Linked DNA regions of Homo sapiens. The protein of the gene in region 2 binds, or shares a complex with, the protein of the main gene of each other region. Each region holds a gene or a part of one and is shown on either strand. Other genes may lie near its edges.

The links. The genes of interacting proteins can lie anywhere in the genome.
Region 1: the proteins of MAPK8 (region 2) and DUSP16 are in contact, whole or in part, in a crystal structure (PDB 4YR8), measured with the Homo sapiens proteins. Residues at the interface, in NP_001310257.1 of Homo sapiens: Arg189, Val196, Ile197, Leu198, Gly199, Asp229, Ile231, Trp234, Gln253, Thr255, Val256, Thr258, Tyr259, Val260, Asn262, Arg263; in NP_085143.1 of Homo sapiens: Phe215, Leu267, Asp268, Tyr271, Lys275, Pro279, Ile281, Ser282, Pro283, Asn284, Phe285, Asn286, Leu288, Gly289, Gln290, Leu292, Asp293.
Region 3: the proteins of MAPK8 (region 2) and MAPK8IP1 are in contact, whole or in part, in a crystal structure (PDB 3VUM), measured with the Homo sapiens proteins. Residues at the interface, in NP_001310257.1 of Homo sapiens: Lys83, Asp112, Ala113, Gln117, Val118, Met121, Leu123, Glu126, Arg127, Tyr130, Tyr133, Val159, Lys160, Ser161, Asp162, His286, Val323, Trp324, Asp326, Glu329; in NP_005447.1 of Homo sapiens: Arg157, Pro158, Lys159, Arg160, Pro161, Thr162, Thr163, Leu164, Asn165, Leu166.

Annotation. Positions count from the first base shown.
Region 1 is NC_000012.12:12,559,861-12,567,021, forward strand, and holds the start of DUSP16 (dual specificity protein phosphatase 16), read right to left. Parts: upstream 3,004-7,161; 5' UTR 2,257-3,003; intron 1,256-2,256; exon of another isoform or gene 1,140-1,255; intron 1-1,139. UniProt on the Homo sapiens protein: Dual specificity protein phosphatase involved in the inactivation of MAP kinases. Dephosphorylates MAPK10 bound to ARRB2.
Region 2 is NC_000010.11:48,309,668-48,316,687, reverse strand, and holds part of MAPK8 (mitogen-activated protein kinase 8), read right to left. Parts: intron 1-7,020. UniProt on the Homo sapiens protein: Serine/threonine-protein kinase involved in various processes such as cell proliferation, differentiation, migration, transformation and programmed cell death.
Region 3 is NC_000011.10:45,881,042-45,888,653, forward strand, and holds the start of MAPK8IP1 (C-Jun-amino-terminal kinase-interacting protein 1), read left to right. Parts: upstream 1-4,609; 5' UTR 4,610-4,779; coding exon 4,780-4,880; intron 4,881-7,612. UniProt on the Homo sapiens protein: The JNK-interacting protein (JIP) group of scaffold proteins selectively mediates JNK signaling by aggregating specific components of the MAPK cascade to form a functional JNK signaling module. Required for JNK activation in response to excitotoxic stress.

The DNA.
Region 1 (7,161 bases), on a different chromosome or scaffold from region 2:
CCTCCCATCTCAGCCTCACTTCCACTCTCAACTGTCCCACAAATAATTTTTAAACGTGTAGGAAAAAGGAAAAGAACCGGGGTAACAGTGTCTCCTCTTTTACTGCCTTCTCAGTTACTGCCATTAAGCTTTTGGCCCAAAGACTCCAATCCCCAATTTTACATGTCTATTTTTATTTTATAGGTACACACTTACAATCACCAAACTGAACGAAAGGATAGGGCATTCTAAATTGAAAAAGGAGCAAAACTGGATAATTCTGCAGTTCTGTTCCTAGCCCCCTCCATAATCATGCACTATGATCATTTGGCACTATAATCAAGCCAAATGAGATATTGTACTTTGAGTTGCTGATATAGCAGAGGTTAATACTAAAAAAGAAAAAAAAAATTAATTACCACAGTTTACATTTTTTATCTGAATGTACATTTATAGTACTTGAACCGAGTTATTTTCAAAACACTATTCACACTAACAAAATTCAAAATAAATTCATTTCTAATTTTTCCCCCATGTAGAATTTTGATAAGTGCAAAAATTATTTTACCTAAAATCCAACTCTTGGGCTGGTGTTATTTAGCCTATATTTTTACATAAGACTGTAAATGTTAGCCAAATTAAAAAAAATTTTAATGCAACTTTCCACATTGTCTTCAAACTCAGTAAATTCCACAATTTTAAAAAACAAAAACCTTTCACCGTGCCTACTCACATTTTTACTAAAATCCCTACACAGAGCCATACATTCTGCTTTTCATTTTACTTCTCCAAGCTGCTGCCTTCACCAAATAGACTCCACGAGCCTCCCAAGTGGTATCCACCAATATATGTGATACTCAAGGAAAAGTAGGTATTAAAGAGTAATTAATTCAATTGGTACGAAATCTTTTCTTTTAAAATTTTACCTTAACTTTAAAAAGCCCTTTTCTTGATGGAGGTGAAACAGCATAAATCCTTTGAGGAAACGGTTATCCTTTACGTGGACTCTCCATCAGCCCCATAAGGTGAGTGGCATAAAGAGGCATTTTTCTGACAGTCTCAGTTCCCCAAACACTAGTCCTAAACTTTTGCATGGATGGTAAATTTCACACACACACACACACACAGAGGCGGAAAAGAAAGAAGAGAAAGAAACATACCTGGTTTATTTTCTAAACAGGTTTGATAGGTTTGGTTCACTTGAAAGAGCAGAGTATTTACTTATAATCTTTTAAAACAGAAGTGGGAGCCAGAGCGCTGGGTAAATAAAAACTTCAGAGAGTTTTAAAACCCTGCATCTTAACTCACTTCCCTTTGGTTCAAGGGGATGGCACAGCAAACCCCACGGCAAATGAGATTATGCAACAGGTTTTTTTCCTCCCCAGCTTATTCATCACAGGCTGGTTAGAGGTGTGCTTTCTCCAATCTGAGACACCCACGACTTCAAAACGCCAAGAATCCTTGCAGTTGATGTTTCCTAAACTTCTTTAGGATTTTGCAGTATCCATTCATTTTCAGATCTACTTGCCTTTTCTCTGGTTCATTATTGGTATTCTTTAGGAAATAAACCCAGCATCTGAAAATATTTCCCTCTGTGGTGTTTCATTACATGAAACTACACGTGATACACAGACCCTGGGCTTTTTTATTTCTCACGTTTTGCAGCTAGTGTAAATAAAGAAGTCACTAGGCGTCGGGCCCCCCAACGCCAAGACCCGAGCCCCTGTCCGAAAATTGAGGGCTTTTTCGGTTGGTTGGTTGAAGAAAGCAGCACCGTCACCACCCAGGTGGCCTCGCTGCTTACACCAAAGGCGAACTGGGGATAATGGGAACAGTCAGGCCAGGGCCCCACTTGGCAGGCGTGTTGTGTAACAGTCGCGCCTGGAAGTGAGCAGCTTCGCCCGCAAAGGTGCCGCGTCCCGCGGCGGCCGCTCCTCTCGGCGGGGCCCGGTCCAAGCGCCGCGCAGCGGCCGGGAGCGCACCCACTGCGACCCCGCGCCCGGCCGCACGCCCCCTTCCCGCTCCGGCCAGCCTCCGGCCAGGCCTACACCCCCGCTTCAAACGCTCCTGCGGCCCCCGGCCGCGGTCGCCCCCACGCCGCCTCCCGAAAGGGTGGCCGGTACGCCCGGGAAGGCAGAGACGGCGGGGCTGGAGCGCGGCGCCCGGCACCGGGAGTCGGGGCGCGCTGCGGAGCGTCCATGCGGCCGGGCGGGAGGGCGCCCCGGGCCCCGCACCCTCCCGCCCGCACACCCCGCGCGGCCCGCCAAGGCCACTTACTTTTGGGGCCGCCGACCTCCCAATTCCCTCAGAGGGAAACGAAAGTTGTCACGGCGTCTCCCCTCGGGCCCCCCTCGCCTCCCGGACTTGCGAGGCGCCGCCGCGGAGCCGAGAGGGCGGCTGCGCTCCCGCTCGCGTCCCGTCCCGTCGCTCTCCTCCTCCTCTTCTTTTCAGTATATTATCTTCTCCTTCTCTGAGGGGTGGGTTGGGGCGGGAGGCTTAGGAAGAGAGGAGACGCTCGCAACTTTTCTTCACTCTTTCTCTTCCACCCTCCCCCCCATCAGCCTTCAAAAAAAATGTCGAAAGAGATGAAGAACTTAGGGAGGTAAAGGTGGGGGGCCGCGTTGTGAAAGTGGGGGTTGGGGGGGAGAGAGAGGTGGTAATAATCGTTTAAAAACTGATTAAAGCCCCCCAAACACTGATACATAGAAAGAGGGGGAAAGGCGGGGGGGTGGGGTGGGGGGTTGGGGGAAAGAGAAAGAGTCGCTGGTCAGGAAACTTCAAGCGCGGATGAGGTCATTGGTTTAAAAATAAAGAGATGGCGTCACTTGAAACCAATCCCAGTGAATGAACTCAGCGGAGCCCCGGGGAAAGGAGGAGACAGGCGAGGGCAGGGCGGTGGGCGCCGGGCGGGGCCGCGCGCTCGCCCATCCCGCGGCCGCCCGAGCCCGGAGCGCGGCTCCGCGCCTCGTTCCGGCCGCTCGGGGAGGGGTCAGGTCATGTTCCCTTCCAGAGTCCGGCGACTCTGAGGCAGGTTCCGCGGGCGCCGCTGGGAGGAGCCGGAGCTGCCGGAGGAGGCGGCCCCGCGGCCTCCTCCCCCACCTCTCCCTCCTCCTCCTCCTCCTCCCGCGCCCGCGCGCCCGCCCCCTACCCCCGGGCTCGCGGCCCCGACCCCCGGGCCGGGGTGTCCGCCTCCAGTGCTGCGCCCCAACAGGTATCGGAGGGTTTTCTCCCTCACCCAGACGCAGAACCTTTCCCTCCTCCTTGAGCTGTTTCCAGCTGCCTCACCAACGTCAAAAAACGCAAACACTGATTTGAGAGAATTACACTCGCTCTGTAAAAAGTCTGGCGAATGCAAAAGGCAAGGCTCTGCCATCTCTCAGGAGAGAAGTTACAGGTACTTCAAGAAAAATCACACTACTGTTGTCAGGCATTCAGCTATCTATATGTTTATGGTTGAAAGCCCCCACATAAATGTTCCTACATTACTTTACTTTGCTTATATTTACAAATACAAGGATAAGCAGCCTACATTTTCTTTAAAAATGTTTTCTACAGGAGGCAGCGCAGAAACATCTTTAAATAAGACCAGGGGTTAACCGCCTCTTGAGAGGTACAAAACCCTTGTTGATTTAACTCCACATACCTCGTGCATTTTATTATTTGAATTCATTAAAATGTCTGTTTTGAGATGACATTATGCACTTTGGAAAACGAGAGACCTGAGGTGGTGACAAACCAGGACTTGGAATCACTGAATAGGACAATCGGAGCTTTATTCCAATGTTCTTTGAGCATTTGAGCATGAAGCTGCTTCTACTGAGAAGTACTCACGTGGATATCACATAACAAAGATGTGATTAATGACGGAAAAGCACCCTGCGAGTGGACTGCTCCATGAGCCAGAATTTATGTGTAGGAATAATCTAACTCTTCAAATATTCCATTTACAATGTGCCGGATTGGGACACTAGACCCTAAAGGCACTGTTTGCTGTGGGATATCCATGTGCACCCTGCCTAAAGCACGTTTTTCCACTAGCAAAAGAACTGATAAGCAGGTTTGGGTGGGTTCGAAAGATAATACACCCCTGTTACTACTTTTCTGCCTTTAAGTCCTGCAACTAAAGGCATTCCTTATGATTGGTAATCATTGAAGGTTAGTGTTGCGGGGTATGGCCCTGGGAACTTCTGGCCCATCTTTTATAGGAGGGAAAAAAAAAGCCCATTTGAAGATGGGAGGCACCCTAGCACCTCTGGCAGTAGTAGGTAAAGCCTGAAGGCCACAGATGGAGAAGCAACTTTGAGCCTGTGCCTCTGGCCTCTTGAAGACTTTGCTAGGGGAAGCAAATCTCTCCCACTGCTCCCTGTCCTCTGGTGGCCAGGAGGTGTTACTGCAGCTTCCTTGGGATTATTTGTGCTCTACCAGGAAACCCCTAAAAATCTAACTGTAGACCTTTGTTGGAGGTGTTGGGATTTTTAGGAAGGAAGAAGAAGATAGTCCTTTTACTAGTGGTACAGAGCATGGATCTTGCCTGGAGGAAAGATTCATGAGAATTAATGGTATCCCCTTTGCATGCCAAAGTTCCAGTAACCTTGCTTTAACTGACATGGCTTGAAACGTTTCTCCCCTTTCCTCAGTTACACAATTAAGTTTGTGTAATGTATGATGTGGTGCCATCATAGCTATCATAGAAGTCTCTCAGGGTATTTCATCTATTTCTGGAAACAAGACGTATATTAAAGCTCATTAAAAACGAAATCAATGATTGAGTGATGTACAATATTGGTTAAAAGAGTCAGGGGGCCGGGCGTGGTGGCTTAAGCCTATAATCCCAGCACTTTGGGAGGCCCGAGGCGGGTGGATCATGAGGTCAAGAGATCGAGACCATCCTGGCCAACATGGTGAAACCCCGTCTCTACTAAAAATACAAAAATTAGCCAGGCGTGGTGGTGGGCGCCTGTAGTCCCAGCTACTCAGGAGGCTGAGGCAGAAGAATCACTTGAACCCGGGAGGTGGAGGTTGCAATGAGCCGAGATCGCACCACTGCACTCCAGACTCCAGCCTGGCAACAGAGTGAGACTCCATCTCAAAAAAAAAAAAAAAAACAAACAAACAAAAAAAAACATCAGGGGAGAAAAGGAGCAATGTAGGCTGGGATTATCAGGGAAGGCACCTTATAAAGAGTTTTGACCTTATCCTTGAAGGACAGTTCAGATTTAGTTTGCAGTGAAGAAGCCAGTGGAGGGAAGATTCCAGAGGGCAAATGGCAATGAGCCAAGACATGGAGGTGGAATGAATAATGAGTAAGGTGTATTCAAGTGACAGAAGAGTAAACCCAGTAGCAGTAGAAATCGGTATTTAGCAATTAGGTATGAGGTTAAATTTAAGAGATACAGAGGCACATTGTGGAGGTACTTGAATGTTAGAATAAATAGATTGTTACCTGCCCAGCAGGTGAAGGGGAAACCACTAAACAAGTTTACTTCACCGAAGAGTACATTTCTTTCTTTTACTAAGAAAGGTTTTCTACATACTAACAATAAATATGTGGAAACAGCCCTCTCCCTCTCCCGCTCCCGCTCCCGCTCCCTCTCTTTCCACGATCTCCCTCTGATGCCGAGCCGAAGCTGGACTATACTGCTGCCATCTCGGCTCACTGCAACCTCCCTGCCTGATTCTCCTGCCTTAGCCTGCTGAGTGCCTGCGATTGCAGGCACGCACCGCCACGCCTGACTGGTTTTCGTATTTTTTTGGTGGAGACGGGGTTTCGCTGTGTTGGCCGGGCTGGTCTCCAGCTCCTAACCGTGAGTGATCCGCCAGCCTCGGCCTCCTGAGGTGCCGGGATTGCAGACTGAGTCTGGTTCACTCAGTGCTCAATGGTGCCCAGGCTGGAGTGCAGTGGCGTGATCTCGGCTCGCTACAACCTCCACCTCCCAGCCGCCTGCCTTGGCCTCCCAAAGTGCTGAGAGTGCAGCCTCTGCCCGGCCGCCACCCCATCTGGGAAGTGAGGAGCGTCTCTGCCTGGCTGCCCATCGTCTGGGACGTGAGGAGCCCCTCTGCCTGGCTGCCCCATCTGGAAGTGAGGAGCGTCTCTGCCCGGCCGCCATCCCATCTAGGAAGTGAGGAGCGCCTCTTCCCGGCTGCCATCCCATCTAGGAAGTGAGGAGCGTCTCTGCCCGGCCGCCCATCGTCTGAGATGTGGGGAGCGCCTCTGCCCCGCCGCCCCGTCTGGGAGGTGAGGAGCGTCTCTGCCCAGCCACCCCGTCTGAGAAGGGAGGAGACCCTCCGCCCGGCAGCCGCCCCGTCTGCGAAGTGAGGAGCCCCTCCGCCCGGCAGCCACCCCGTCTGGGAAGTGAGGAGCGTCTCCGCCCGGCAGCCACCCAGTCCGGGAAGGAGGTGGGGCTCAGCCCCCGCCAGGCCAGCCGCCCTGTCTGGGAGGGAGGTGGGGGGGTCAGCCCCACGCCTGGCCAGCCGCCCCGTCCGGGAGGTGAGGGGCGCCTCTGCCCGGCCGCCCCTACTGGGAAGTGAGGAGCCCCTCTGCCTGGCCACCACCCCGTCTGGGAGGTGTACCCAACAGCTCATTGAGAACGGGCCATGATGACAATGGCGGTTTTGTGGAATGGAAAGGGGGGGAAGGTGGGGAAAAGATTGAGAAATCAGATGGTTGCCGTGTCTGTGTAGAAAGAAGTAGACATGGGAGACTTTTCATTTTGTTCTGTACTAAGAAAAATTCTTCTGCCTTGGGATCCTGTTGATCTGTGACCTTACCCCCAACCCTGTGCTCTCTGAAACATGTGCTGTGTCCACTCAGGGTTAAATGGATTAAGGGCGGTGCAAGATGTGCTTTGTTAAACAGATGCTTGAAGGCAGCATGCTCGTTAAGAGTCATCACCACTCCTTAATCTCAAGTACCCAGTGACACAGACACTGCGGAAGGCCGCGGGGTCCTCTGCCTAGGAAAACCAGAGACCTTTGTTCACTTGTTTATCTGCTGACCTTCCCTCCACTATTGTCCTGTGACCCTGCCAAATCCCCCTCTGCGAGAAACACCCAAGAATGATCAATAAAAAAAAAATAATAAAAAATAAAAAATAATAATAAAAAATGTGGAAACAGAAATTAAAAACAGAACCATTTTACAATTGCTCCAAAGAACGTGAAATATTTACATATAAATCTAAC
Region 2 (7,020 bases):
CAAATCAAACTCACTCTTTGCACCCTCTCACTCCTGTGCTTTCCTGACTTGATTTTTGCATTTTTCCAAGCTTAAGACCCTCCTGTCTACATTCATTCACTTCATACTTCTCATATCTTGACCTCTACTTTGACTGCATGCTCTCTGACACCAGACTAAATTATATTTCCGGGAGCTGCCTCTGGGTGCTAAGCACATAGAAAGCAGCCTATACACATAGTCACACCTTGCTTAAGGACGGGGATACCTTCTGAGAAATGCATCATTAGGCAATTTCGTCACTGTGCAAACATCATGGAATCTACTTACACCAACCTAGATAGTACAACATACCTAAGCTATAATATGGTGTAGCCTACTGACCCTAGGCTACGAACCTGTACAGCAGGTTACTGTACTGAATACTGCAGGCAACTGTAACACAATGGGAAGTATTTGTGTATCTAAACATAGAAAAAATAGAGTAAAAATATGGTATAATTTTATGGGACCACTGTCACATATGTGGTCTGTAATGGACCGAAACCTCACCATGTGGTGCATGACTGTATCATCAAATAAGACACAAGGCAGTTAACTGCTAATCCTACATTCACTATCAAGTGATCCCCAACTTGTCCATTTAACATTTTGAAAACCACAATTCATTTCAAGTTACATTAACTTTAGAGAGAAAACTTCACACTACTTTAAGTATTCCCATAATCCCTCCCTAATTTCATTATTATTCATAACATTTAAATACTCAACAGATAAACAGATATTTTGGCTCATTTTACATATAATGGAGGAAAACTATAATCTTCTAAAATCACCACTATAAATGCAATAAGAAAAAATATAAGAGTATAAAAAGTTGGGGGAGGGAGGAGGTAAAAATCAAAGGAAACAAAAAAGCTGGCATGACATAAGAAAAATAAAAAATTCAACTACAAAACTATTAGAAATAATAAATATTCTACAGGGGGCTTATTATTTAATATATGAAATATTAACTAATATACAAAATAAAAAGCTTTCTTATATATAACCAGATAGAAGATAAAAGTGGAAAAAAAGATGCCATTTCCAGCAAAAAAAAAAAAACTTAAATATATAAAACAGCAAAAAAAAATTTTAATGTTTAAAAATGCTATCAGGAACTCAAAATGAGACTTCAACAAATGAAAAGGTTGTTTTTCCTATTCTTGGATATAAAGGTACATCATAAAGCTGTCACTTATTCTATAAATACAAAGAAATCCTAACAGTACACTGAATCCATTTAATAGAAGCCAATCACTGGGGAGCAAGGTAACTTGAAAAGGATGTAAGAAAAGGTTCTGGGTGATGGAAGTGTTCTGTATTTTGATCTGGGATTGCACAAGTGTATACAAAGGCAAACTTATTGGACTGTAATGCTTGTGCATCTAGCTGTGCATAATTTTACCACAATAAAATAAAAAAAGTGATTCCAACAGAAAGACTGGCAGAGGAGGGGTACAGACTAGACTAGATGGGTTGTTTTTAGAAGTTCATATAAAATAAACAAGATAGAAGCCAGAAAAAAACTTCTGAAAAGGAAGAGAAATAAAAGGGAATTAGACCTAGCAGAAAACACAGCATAAACTACAATAATAAAAACAGGATGGCTCAGGTCCCAAACAGGCAGATGGGTCAATGGAAACAATGGTACCAAATACACGTGGAAATTTTGTAAATGGTAAAGGTGGCATTTTAAATCAGTTAAGACAAAGATGGATTATTTAATAAATGGTGTAGGGACAAATGGATGGATATCTGGTGAAGAAAATAAAGTTGGAACCATACATAATAGCCTACCATAGAATGGAAAACAGCAAATTGGGGAAAAACATTTCCAAAAAATAGCATGGAGCCAATTTGTAAAATTAATCCTACAAATCTAGGAAAATGAGCAACAAAGCAATAGAAAAACATGCAAAGACAAGGACAGTTCAAAAGAAAGAAAACACAAACAGCCCTTAAAAGATGAAAGACGTCTAAGGGTAATAAGAAGCAGGCATCCTTACACAGTGCTGGTGGAATGGAAGTTGGACAACCTCTACAGGCTACACTTCAGCAATACATAAAATTACAAATGCACATACGCTGGCCTAGGAACTCTACCTCTGGAAATTTATCCTATGCATTTAAGTGCAACACGACGTATGCACAAGGTAATCCACTGCACCATGGCTTTTGATAGCAAAAGTCTGAAAACTACCTAAATATGCATCAGAAAGGAGTTAAATGGTATACCAGTATAATGATGTTATGGACTGTCTGTGTCCCTCCAAATTCATATGTTGAAGGCCTACCCTCTAACTTGATAGTATCTGGAGGAGAGACCTTTAGGAGTTAACTAAGCCTCTCATGACTATATTAGGTCATGAGGGTGGAGCCCCCATGATAGGATGAGGAACAGACTAGAGCTCTTAGGGGCCATGTGAGGATACATCCAGAAGCCGGCCACCTATAAAGCCAGGAAAAGGACCCTCACCAGGGAACCAAATTGACTAAGTAGCCTAATCTTGAACTTCCCGACCTCCAGAACTGTGAGAAATAAATTTCTGTTGTTTAAACCACTCAAGTTATGGTATTTTGATATAGCAGCCCAAACAGAGTAAGACAAATGGAATACCACAAAGATGTTAAAAAAGCATGCCATTTACATACTGATATGACTGATATAAAATAATCTCTCAGCTATATTAAAACAAAAAGCAGGCCACGTGCGGTGGCTCACACCCGTAATCCCAGCACTTTGGAGGCCAAGGCAGGTGGATCACCTGTAATCCCAGCTACTCAGGAGGCTGAGGCAGGAGAATCACCTGAACCTCGGAGGCAGAGGTGGCAGTGAGCTGAGATTGTGCCACTGCACTCCAGCCTGGGCAACAAGAGTGAGACTCCGTCTCAAAAAACAAACCAACAAGCAAAAAACAAAAAAGCAAAAGGTGATACATATTGCATGCAACAACTTACATTAAATAAAAAGGGAGGGAGCAGAGCAGAGGCTATACAGTACTGTATATATGTATGACACCTATCCTTCATTGGCAAAGCCAAAATCCATAAAGCTGTGAAAAATACGTTTTTAAAATAAGTTTAGTACAAACGTATTTGGTGGTAAAACCTGACGAGACGTAGCATAAGATTTTATAATCTTTATTCACCCTACTTGTATTTGTTATGCTTTTATAAAAATATTAATGTCTTTGATTATTTCTGGGTGTTGTTGTTGTTGTTGTTTTTTGAGACAGAGTCTACACCTCTGCCGCCCAGGCTGGAGTGTAGTGGCACGATCTCAGCTCACTGCAACCTCCGCCTCCTAGATTCAAGAGATTCTCCTGCCTCAACCTCCCAAGTAGCTGGGATTACAGGCGTACGCTACCACGCCCAGCTAATTTTTGTATTTTTAGTATAGACGGGGTATCACTATGTTGGCCAAGCTGGTCTCAAACTCCTGACCTCAGGTGATCCGCCCGCCTCGGCCTCCCAAAGTGCTCAGATTACAGGCGTGAGCCACCGCGCCTGGCCTATGTCTGTATTTTTTACAGAAATGTTAATGTGTTTAATCATGAGGCTACAACCTCTTACTAGGGATTTTGGATAACACGGTAGATGTGCTACATTATCTTTCCACAACTGCAAAAAAAGCCTTCATTCTAAAATACATCTGGACCAAGGATTTTGAACAAAGGATTATATACTTAAACATATATAAACTATCTTTGGAAGTATTCACAGGAATTTTAACAGTTTCCAGGCAGAAGAACTAGGTGGCTACACAGAGTAGAAAAGGAGATTCTTTATCTTTTTAAATCTTTGGAATTTTGAGTCAAAGTGAATTCATTACTACTTAGTCAAAATATAAAATGTAAACAAATTAAAACATTAAGACTTTTAAATTCTCAATAGTAACAGCCAAAGCTAGATGCTTTGGTTTTTGTTTAACTGAAAAGTGACGCTTTCTCAAGTCACAGAAAAATCCACACAGCAGTAGCTTTTCTTTATCTTACCTTTGGTTGACCCAATGGCATCTGAAAATCAGAAAGCCATCCTTCCTGGAACAAGTCAGAAAATGGTGATTTTTCTACCCAATTAATGACTTTTAGGAAATAACATCTTATGGTTTTGATGTTTCCTGCCAAGCAAAGCAAGTGCTTGTGTGTGGCTATTTTTCGTTTCTAGTTTCCCCAGAAATATGGTGGGTGGCAGGCTTGAGTCTCTCAGCACCAAGAGGCAGTACTGGAGGACTATACTTCTCAATACTGGAGAGAGACTTTAAAAAGTGTTTCTAGTACAGATCCAGCCTTACATCATAAGAGCTTCAATACAGAGGAGATTGAGAACTCTGGTTAGTACCTGAGTAGCATCTTTTCTACTGTCAGCTTTTCATATTTCTCATATACTTATTTTGATACCCTGTTGTATTCCAAAATGAATTCATAAGGTTTGCCTTTTCTTATGATTTGGATTTTGACTAATGTGCACCACACTCTCAACTTAAACCAGGAATCAGAAAAGAAGATATCTTGCTTTCTCAGGTTTATCGAGTGAGTACAAAGGCATGGCAAGAGATGTAAGGTTTGGAAGGCCCCAAATGCCCCAATGACAAAAGAAATTCCTAATGAAATGACTAACAATATTTGCTTCCTTGTGTTAGGACATAAATGTGCTTACGTTAATCCTTATCTTCTATCAAATTATACTCAGCTCACTGAGGGTAGAAACTGACTTCTATTTCCTTTGGTTCCTACATCACCGAATACCTGGATTAGTATAGTGCAATGCTCAGTAAATACTGCCGAAGTAAAAACCAGTGTCATCTCATAGTAGATGCTCTTGAGAAGGAACAAGAAATTTAATCCACCATTATAATCATAGAAACGCTAAACAGAAGACTTAGAAAACCACAGAAAATACAGAAAAGATAATATTTCTAAGTGGTACTAATAAATAATCTCCCTCATTTTTTAAGAGGCCTCCAGGCCTCAATGAATTGTTGTGGTTACCAGGTCTCTGACAAATCTGCAATCTTCACAGAATCGAAGATCCCAATAACACTAAATTTAAAAGATGTGACAGCATTCCATTTTCTTCAAATGTGTCACATGATAAAGCTATTCGTAGCTCCTAAATTCTCATTCCTTTAGATGTCTATAACAAACCTAGGAAAGCTTAGGCAATTTTCTCCTGTGGGAAAAGGCAAAAAATCGTGAAAGTGGCAAATATGTTCCCTTCAATATTTGCTTCTGGAACATTTCCAAATTTTAAGATAGAGAGGATTACTGGTCCAAATGTTAATATAAATCATCTCAGTCAATTCAGATTACATGAGATGATCGAATTTTAAATAAACCCCCCAGAGATGCAGAGTGAAACAAATGGCATATTCTGGAGAATTAGAATGGACACTGTGCATTAAACTGGTTTGACGTTTACTTGGCATTTTATGTTTGTTCAAAGTTAAATATAAGTGATAACAATAGCAAAAACTACCTGAATACTTGTATCTAGCATTCCAGCCACCACAACAGTGCCAGGCACTTTACATGCAGTACCTAATTTAAACCTCACAGCCCTATGAGGTTACGTGCTATTATTATTCTCATTTGACAGATAATAAAACAGGCCCAAATATGTTATATAACCTGAACTAGCCTATACCACAGTTAGATTGGAGCACGATTAGAACTCAGGGCTGACCTTAAAACCCACGCTAGCAATCATTGTAAGGTTTGAGTTCCTTGACTTTCTAAAGAATGGCAGATTTTAACTAAATCTGAAATATAATAAAGGGTAACAGGAAACACAGGTATCTCTTGTATTTGTGATATAACCCACCTCCAAGAAAAAGAATGGAAGCTACTAAGTTTTCCAAAAAGGGGTCTCCTCTCTGTCTCTCTCCATGCACATACGTATACACACATACACACACACACACACACACACACAATTTTAAAAACTGGATTTCAGTGAAATTTGGCCTGCACAGAGATGTGAAGTGGGCTTTTGTTTGGCGGGAACCCTTTCATATACCTTTTAAAAGAGCATAAATTAACTGTTTAGCGATGCCTTCAGTCTAATCCTTGATTATAAGCTTCCTGAGGATAATGAACTCATTTTATGTCTTCCACAAAGTCTCTGGGAGCATACGGTCTCATTAGAAGGCATGATGCTGTGGAATAAATAAAAGCCTACCTTTCCAAGAATCTCTAGCTTATGGTGAAGCCTTCCATTTGTTTTCTAAGTCTGGATATTAAAGAAAAAATTCAACTCAACAATTTTTTTGGCTTCTGAAAATTACAAAATTACAAAATCCTAACTTTGACTACTGTTCTTAACTTAGGCTTCTGATTATCACCCAAGAAGGGCTCTTTTTGTCCTAGTATGTTTTCTCAAGAACCACCTATCTGAGGAACAAGCCTTCTATAAAAAAAAGTTCTGACAGCCTCAGTTTATACTTTTAAAGCCAAAAACATTAAGGCACTTGCCTAAAGCTCCAGAATTTGATGACAAAGTCCAGATGGCAGAACTGAGAAATGAACCTAGGTCTGATTCCTGGATTGCTCTAGCTCCACCTATTGACCTGAATGACAGGATAACTCATTTCAATACTCCTGTTACCTTTCAGTCAACTCACTTCTGAAATCAAAGTTCAACTTAACCTGCATTAAGAGTAAGAATGCAAGGCTTCTAAATGTTCAGGTAAAGAGCTCATGATTAAGACAATCAGCATCACAGTTCACTGACATAGGCAAATGATTCATATATAAAGCTATGTGGTTATAATGACTTCCTTGGACCACATGAATCAGAAAAGCTACTACCCATACCATTGACTTGACCAGAGACCTCTAGAGCACTGGAATCCTAATGTCAGACATTATTTTGTATTTCCACTCGTGCAACAAAGCATCTCAACCATGTAGATGACTGAAATATGTCAAAATTCAACCCGCTGGCAAAGCAGACCAACAAGAAGCAGGCTCCTATTCAACAACCTCTTAGCACTAG
Region 3 (7,612 bases), on a different chromosome or scaffold from region 2:
TGCAGAGGAGGGAGTGGTGTGCCTGTTTGTGTGTGCATGCATCTGTTGACACTCATGATTCTGAATGTTGCCTGGGCTGGGGGAGTACCTGTAGCACGCCAGTGCTGTTTCCCGGCCTCCAGACACAAGGCTCGAGGTTATGGCAGTGACTTTCAGCTGAGACCTGTTCCTGCAAGCCAGCTGCCTTGTCTGAACAGAACGTAGTGGTAGGACCCTAGCTGGGATTCTGGCATCTGCCTCCCTAGACCTCCTTCCCTCCCTCCTCACGTCAGGCTGTGGAGCAGGAGCACAGCAGTTCTGGCTGTTGTCCAAAGCATGGGATTCTGGAGGCAGCCAGAGCCCTGCTGAGTTCCTGCTTTCTGACCTGGAGGCTGAGCAGGCCGGAGTGGATGGATGCTGTCCAGACGTAGCCACCTGGCCTCTGTTTCTTATTTTAAAATTCTCTGCTACTGGGCTCAGTCCCAGGCCCTTCCTTGGGCTTCTGGGACTGAGCATGAGGCCATAGACAGATCTAAAAAGTTTCCACCACCCTACAGAAGTACACACAGATACCTGACTGGTGTGGGGTATGCCTGGTACTGTAATAGGAGCCTAAGACAGCACACCTACCTTTTCAGGATTTAGAACCTAAAATTAGAAAGAGAATCCCAGCTGTCATTGTTCCTTCCCCAGAAGCTAAGAGCCAGCCTCAGAGCCTACCCAGGAGCTGTGAAGGGGCAAGGGTCAAACTGACTCACTCTACCAGGAGGAGACCAGGTTGCAGTGGCGTAAGGCCCCCTGGTTTCTCTGGCCACACTCCAAGGCACCACAGTGCTGCCAGTGAGGACAGCTGACACCCAGCCAGGGAAACCATTCTAGTCTTTATTCTGTTGGCTTCCAGGGCCTGTCCTGGACTTGTCAGCATCCAGACTGCCATGTCAGCTATCCCAGTAGCTGAGCTCCAAGGACTCAGGCAGAGGGACTCAGGGATGGGGACTGCCAGGGGCAGTTGGCAAAAGTCCAAGTAGAGATTACACCCAGAACACCATTCCTTCCAGGAGCAGTAGGTGGGAGGTTTGACCCAGAGAAGCCAATCCTTGCATTCCAGGAGTGGCCTGTGCCTCCCACCTCTTCCTTCCCACTGCCAAAGGCCTGTGTTGAGAAAGATGTCATGCAAAAGGACGACGGTGGCCAACTAAAGCAAGTCTTCCTTCCACCCTGTGGCCTGCACTTGAGCCACAAAGTGTGTGTGTGTGTGTGCGTGTGTGGTACGTGTGTGTGTGTGTGGCTATGAGGCTGATTCCTGTTTGGATTTTTGTCCTCACGTGTATCATTAAGCTGGCCTTTGGGCCTTTTCCTTTCTACCTCCCCTGTGACCTTTCCTAGCCTCAGATCTGTTAATTCTTTTGGCCCCAGCCCTGTCCCTCACTGTCCTCTGTCCTTGGACCAGAACCCTGGGGTCAGACCCATCTCCTGTAGCTGTCCATCACACTGACAGGCTTCTTCCTGAGATATCCTCAGGTTTTCTCAGCCAGAGAGCTGCCTTTAGAGTCCAACTGTTGTACGTATGTCACCTTCACTAGAAATGTCCCATCATCGTGGGAGGGGAGCAGGGCACAGGGGATGGTGTGCATTCAGAGCATTGGGTTGGGGGCTTCCCTGTTCCCTCAGCCCCAGTCGAGAGGAAAGAGAATCGGGCCACTGCCAGAAAGAGAGTCAAGCAAACCTGGAAGGGCAAATCTGAGAGTGGGAAGGCCAAAGGCCGAGGCCCAGATTTAGTATTCACTAGCAGCGCCTTCGGGTAGCAGGATGATTCCTTTTCCTGCCTGTCTGCTGCTGGCTCTCTTCCCTAAGGTACAGGTTGGCAGGACCACCTCCGCCTACTTCTCCACCATCCCTAGCATGTCAGCCCGTTCCCAGATCAACCTGCCAGTGGAGTCAGGCAGTGCACTCCTGGAGCCAAGAGGGAAGGGCAGGGTAGAGAGGGTATGTCCAGTAGCCTGGAGCTCCATGGTGGCTTCATGCCTCCCTTCTCCCAGCTCAGGTGGCCCTGAGGGCTCCCTCGGAACAGTGCCTCAAATCCTGACCCAAGGGCCAGCATGGGGAAGAGATGGTTGCAGGCAAAATGCACTTTATAGAGATTTTCTATTGCTGGGAAGGTGTGTTTCTCCCACAATTTGTTTGTGAATATTCACTTGTTTTATAAATGTCTGACCTGTCTTGAGTAAGTTTGTGCTGTCGTCAATCTTGTGGGAGGCCTGGGAACCAGGGTTTTGGTAAGCCTGAGCCTGAATGAAGCTGTCGGCCACCCCATCTTGGTTCTGTGGGAGTCAGGAGCCTCCTATTCCTCCTTAGGAAGGGGGAGCAGCCAGAGCAGACTGGAGCAGCTTGGTCAAGAGTTGGTCCAGAGCTTGGTCAAGAGTTGGGGGTCAATTGGCCAAAATAGTACAGAGCACTCTGGCCCAGAGTGAGGGTCCTAAGTGCCATCCTGCAGTGCCACCCAGCCTTGCAGCCCACTTAAACCCCCTCCCAGGCTGGGGGTCAGTCAGTGCAGGGCCTGCTCCACGCCCTCAATCCATCCTTTAATTCAATGCAGCCACTTAAGCTGCAGCCTGTGGTGAGGAGGGGATGCAGGCTCTCTGGCTGTGACTAGGTGGTTGAGATCTGCCCACAGCCAAGCCTAGGGCGCCTGGATGCTGGCTTTGTCTCCTGGCCAGAGAATGGCCCCTCTCTGTGCAGTGTGCCCTGCTTCCATGCTAGGGGATGCTAGCCTTGGACTGAAAGCTTTATTAGCTCACACCCCAACTTTCTGGGAAGGGGCCCAGGCAAGGCCCAAGAATATCACAGTCTGGCCTGCACAGAGTGAAGAAGGAGAAAAGGGGAGGAACCTGCCTTGGGAACTTGTCTCATTCTTGGCTCTGCTCTGAAGCTCCTGCTGGCCTCCCTCATACCAAGACCTGGGCCTGCCTTTCCTTCTTGCCCTTCTGGCTTCTCTCTAATAATGGCTTTGGGTTGGTCTTTGGAGCTAAGATAACTTTGCTCTTGAGCAAAAGGTTCTGGAAGAGGGAGTTGTCCTTTACATCCACCCCTGACCTGCTAAGGATGTTCCCTAGCTGAGGCAGGTCTACATTCTAAGGAACGATTAGTAGCCATGATGGCAAGACTGCTTTCCTGAGAGGAAAAGCCAGGCACCATGGCAGCAGATGATTACCGTGAGGGCCCAGTGAAAGGGGCCTGATCACGAAAGCTGAGAAAGTAGTGGCCACCCCTCTGGGCCCCAGGGACAGGGAAAAGAGAAGCAGCCATGACCTTTGGCTCTAGGTATTGGGATATTCTCAGGGCTGGTGGTCGGAGGTTGCCTTCTGCACGGAAGGTGCCTCCAGCTCCTTGCTAGGTGCCGCACTGAAGGAAAGGGGCCAGCATGACTGGTCGGCAGTCCAGATTTGCAAATAGGACTCCACGAGTTGTGGCACAGTTTGCTCTGCACGTTTTCTGCCCTGTGGACAGGGTCTCTAGGGTTCTCTCGAGAGACCAGAGAAGCCAATGAGGTTTGACCAGAGGCTCTACGACCCAGCAAAGCTAAGGCCCTAGCCTTGGCAGTCCGTACTCTGAAATAACTCAATCGGGAAACTCAGGGACTTGAAGGCCTGGAAGCCCAGGAATAACACCCTCTCGAGGGAGAGACAATGAGGAAGAAGCCATGGCCAAAGCCTAGCAGGGATGGAGGTGCCAGAGGGAACAGAAACAACCAAAATGATCCCAAGAAGTCAACAGTGGGAGGAGAGGGAAAGGCGCCAAGTCTTAGAATGTGTGTCTGTGGGTGCAGAAGAGGGGTGCTCTGCAGGAAATGCAGTTGAGGCGCTAAGAAGGAGAATGCTGGGAAGGTCCTGGCGAGAGACCGAGAAGCCTGGAGGGCTCAATTCACCACGAGTAGCTGTTTGGGGCTGAAGAGAGATTTGGGTCAATCTTTAGAGAAGACAGCCTCTAGGGAGAGTCTTTGGGAGGGTCCCCTCAAGGTAAAGGGACAGGACTGGGGTGAGGGCTGGATCCCAGCGCAGGAGGTGGAGTGTTTCTGGGTCTCAGGCAACACATTTGTGTTACGTTACATTCTCACAACAACCATGAGAGGGACTGCTATTGTCCCATTTCACAGATAAGAAGACCAAACCTTAGTGCTCTGAAGTCACTAATGCAAGGCCCCACTGCCCAGTCACTTGTGGAGCCAGTGAATTCACACCACCTGACTCCAAACCTGTACACTTTAAGAGCCCACTGACATCCTCTCCTTTCTCTGCCTTCCTCCACGACCCTCCTTTTCCGCCTGCCTTCTTGGTCTCTGCTGCGGGGGGCCAACCTGGACCTTGGGGTCCAGTGTCCTGCCATTAGTCATCTGATACCCGGGCACTAAGCCCAACCGGAGGGACAAAGCCCACACCGGCCACGGGGTGGAGGAGAGTCGATGTCGGATTTAGGGCGGGGCTGAACCAAGCCCAGGGCCGCGGGGGCCGTGGCTTCAGCACCGCGGAGAGCGCCATCTCCGGGGGCGGGGCTGGCGGGGTGGGGGCGGGGCCTGGGCGGGGCGCGCGAGACCCCGGCCGGGTCCCGGGGGCGCGCGCGGGGCGCTCTCGCCAGTCCCGCGGGCCGTGCGCGGTGCTGTGCCGCGCCCTGCCAGACACAGGTGCGCCCGCCTAGCCCGAACTCCGCGGCGGCGGCTGCCCTCTCGCCGCGCCTCCGCCTCCTTCGCAGCCGCCGCCTCCTCCGCGCCGCGCTCCGCCCGGATGGCCAGGGCTGTGCCCGAGAATGGCGGAGCGAGAAAGCGGCGGCCTGGGAGGGGGGGCCGCGTCCCCGCCCGCCGCCTCCCCGTTCCTGGGGCTGCACATCGCTTCGCCTCCCAATTTCAGGTGAGAGTCCCCGGCCGCCGCGCGCCTCGCCCTTCAGCGGGGACTGATCCGCATTGGCTGCCCTGCCCGCCCCCCACCCCAGAACCTCGGGAACCCGGGAACGAAAGGGCTGCGTGGGAGTGGGGTCTCTTCCCGGGACAGAGCCCCCCTCAGAAGCCCCGCCAGCCTCAAGTCCGGACTGGTAGCCGTTGCATGTTCACGAGGCTGTTCCCTCCGCCATTCCTGGTCCTAGGCTGGGAGGTCTGCGCTGGAATTGGAGGAGGGGGCTCGGAGGCCTCCTTCTCCCCAACCTCCGGGCTGCGGCAGGGTCTGGGGTCGGGGTTGCGATCCCGGAGCGGGCAGGCAGGCTGCATCTTAGCCTGTGAATAGAGCTGGGAACAGCCTGGAGGGGCGCGGGTCGCAGTTTCCTGGGGCAACGACATTGTTGGTGCTGGGAGGAGGATGTTTGAGCCCCTCCCCGAGCCCTGCCTGGCCAGATGGGCCTACCTGCCAGGCCTGGCGTGGCCGGGCCCCTCTCTGGATTGGGCAGCACCGACCTAGGCAGGTGTGTCTCTCAGGGCAGGCGCTGAAGGCTCAGCCTCAACCAGGGGAATCCTAGGCCCGGCTGCGGGAAGGGAAGTCGGCTCGGCTCTGGAGTAGCCAGGGCCAGCGAGGGTGTCGAGGGGATCCCTGCTGGGGTAAATACCCAGAACCCTGACCTGAGCTCCTATTCCACCACCCCCACCCCCCAATCTGGTGTTAGGCCCGATGCATTTCAGAGAAGTGAGGGGTGAGTGTTGTGTGGAGGAGGAATAGATGTACCTCCCCCATAATTCTGAACCCTAGTTGGTGGGGAGGAAGAGGCCGAAGTCACTGCTCCCGGCCTAGAGAGGGAGGCTTAGACATACCCCATTGTTTCCCCATCTCGAGAACTGGCGCCTTCCCCTCTCCTGGGGCACCACCCCAGCCAGGCTCCAGCTGGGCTGTGGTGCCAGCCCCTCCTGGGAGCAAGGGGTCACTGGCTCCCAGGTCCTCAGGTGGGCAGAGACCCCTGGGGATCTCTAATAGCATCATCAAACTCAGAAACCTTCCCTGAGGCCCTGAGCTGAGCTGGAAGGACCAGAGGGGGCCAGATGGAGGAGGCCAGGCCTGAAGGCTCCAGGGCTGCAGCTCTCTGATAATGCCTTAGACTGAGGTCTGAGACTCCACCTGGCATGGTGCATGAGGCCTCCATGCAAATACTGCCTCCCCACCTGGAGGCCTCTGCAGTGGAAGCACATGGGGCTTAGAGGGACCTGGGTTCAAATCCTAGCTCCACTACTTTCTAACTGCATGACCCAGGCAGGTTTTTGTCCTCTCTGGGTGCCATCTGTTAAGTGGGCTAATTAATATTGATTCTTGCCTGGAAAGGAGAAAAAGCACATCAGGTCAGTGTTCAACAAGTGTCAGCCCCCACACTAGCAGACAACACTACGGCTCGCTGCTGTCCAGAGTGTCTTCCCAAGGCCCCTCCTTTAACCCTCATAACTGCCCCAAGAGAGGGTAGTGACCTGCCCATTTTATAGATGAGGTGATTGAGATTAACAAAGGCAGGGTGGCTCATCTGGAGACTACAAAAGAGTCAGAGACTAAGGCTACACTGGGACCCAGGTCTGTGCGTGTTTAGTCCACTCTACGTCCCAGCCCTGCCTCTGGCCCAGTGGGCAGCTTTTCTTCCTCGACCTGCTTCCCCAGGTGTCATAGATGCTTTAATGAGAGGAGCTGAGGAAGCAGACACCAGCCAGTGAATGTGTGGCCAGCTCTGCGGCATGTGGGACAAGGGTGGCAGTAGGCCACGAGGCTGAGGTGTGGGCCAGCACTCCAGAACATGGTGGCCTGGCTGCGGAGACAAGGCCAGTGCGTGGGAATAATAAGCGTCAGTGTCTCAGGCCCTGCCGGCCTGCCCCGCTGCTCCCAAAGCCCCCGCTGCCCTTTCTCCTGGCCCGCCTCTCACTGTGCTTGGCCAGGCTCCACTTAACCCTGGGTGGGTAGATAGTGCTTTCTTGTGGCTCTTTGGTGGAGTCATAGATCCAACTGGCCTGGGTTTGAATCCTGGCTGGCCCTTCTTACCTGTGTGCCCTGACACTGGGCACTTAAGCCCTCTGAGCCTCTGAGATGCCAGCACTGGCCCCTGCTCAGGATGGTCCTAAGAATCAGATGAGATAACACGTGTTGAGTGTTTCAAGGGCTGAGGAGAGCCGCCTGTAGGCAGGGCTGTGTGTGTGCACACACACACAGGCGCCTTGACCCCCAGTGCCACTGTCAGCTCCCAGAAAATAAAGGGGGTCTGTACCCAAACTTTGGTATCCCCATTGCTCAGCACGGGATAGTTACTCAATAACAGTGGTAAGCGCTGACATTTGGAAGGCACTCAGTTCGCCCAGGCACCATTCTAAGAGTTTCCTATGTGCAAGAGTATTTACTCCTCCCAATAACTGTATCAACAGAGCGTTGTTATTATCCACACTTGCATGAAGAAACTGAGGCAGAGGGAGGTTAGGTAAGTGGCAGAGCTTGTAAGTGGCAGGCAGTCTGATGTCAGAGCCACCCCAAAAAGAAAGAGCCCTAGAGTATTGGAAGAGCATGTGCGGAGGGGGCGAGCATGTGGACCTGACCTGAAGGGGTGGGAGCATTCGTTTGTTTGTGGTAGGTTAAATACGTGTTAATTTTTGTTCTGATTATAGCTCCAGCTGTTTATAGTGGTTGGTTACCTT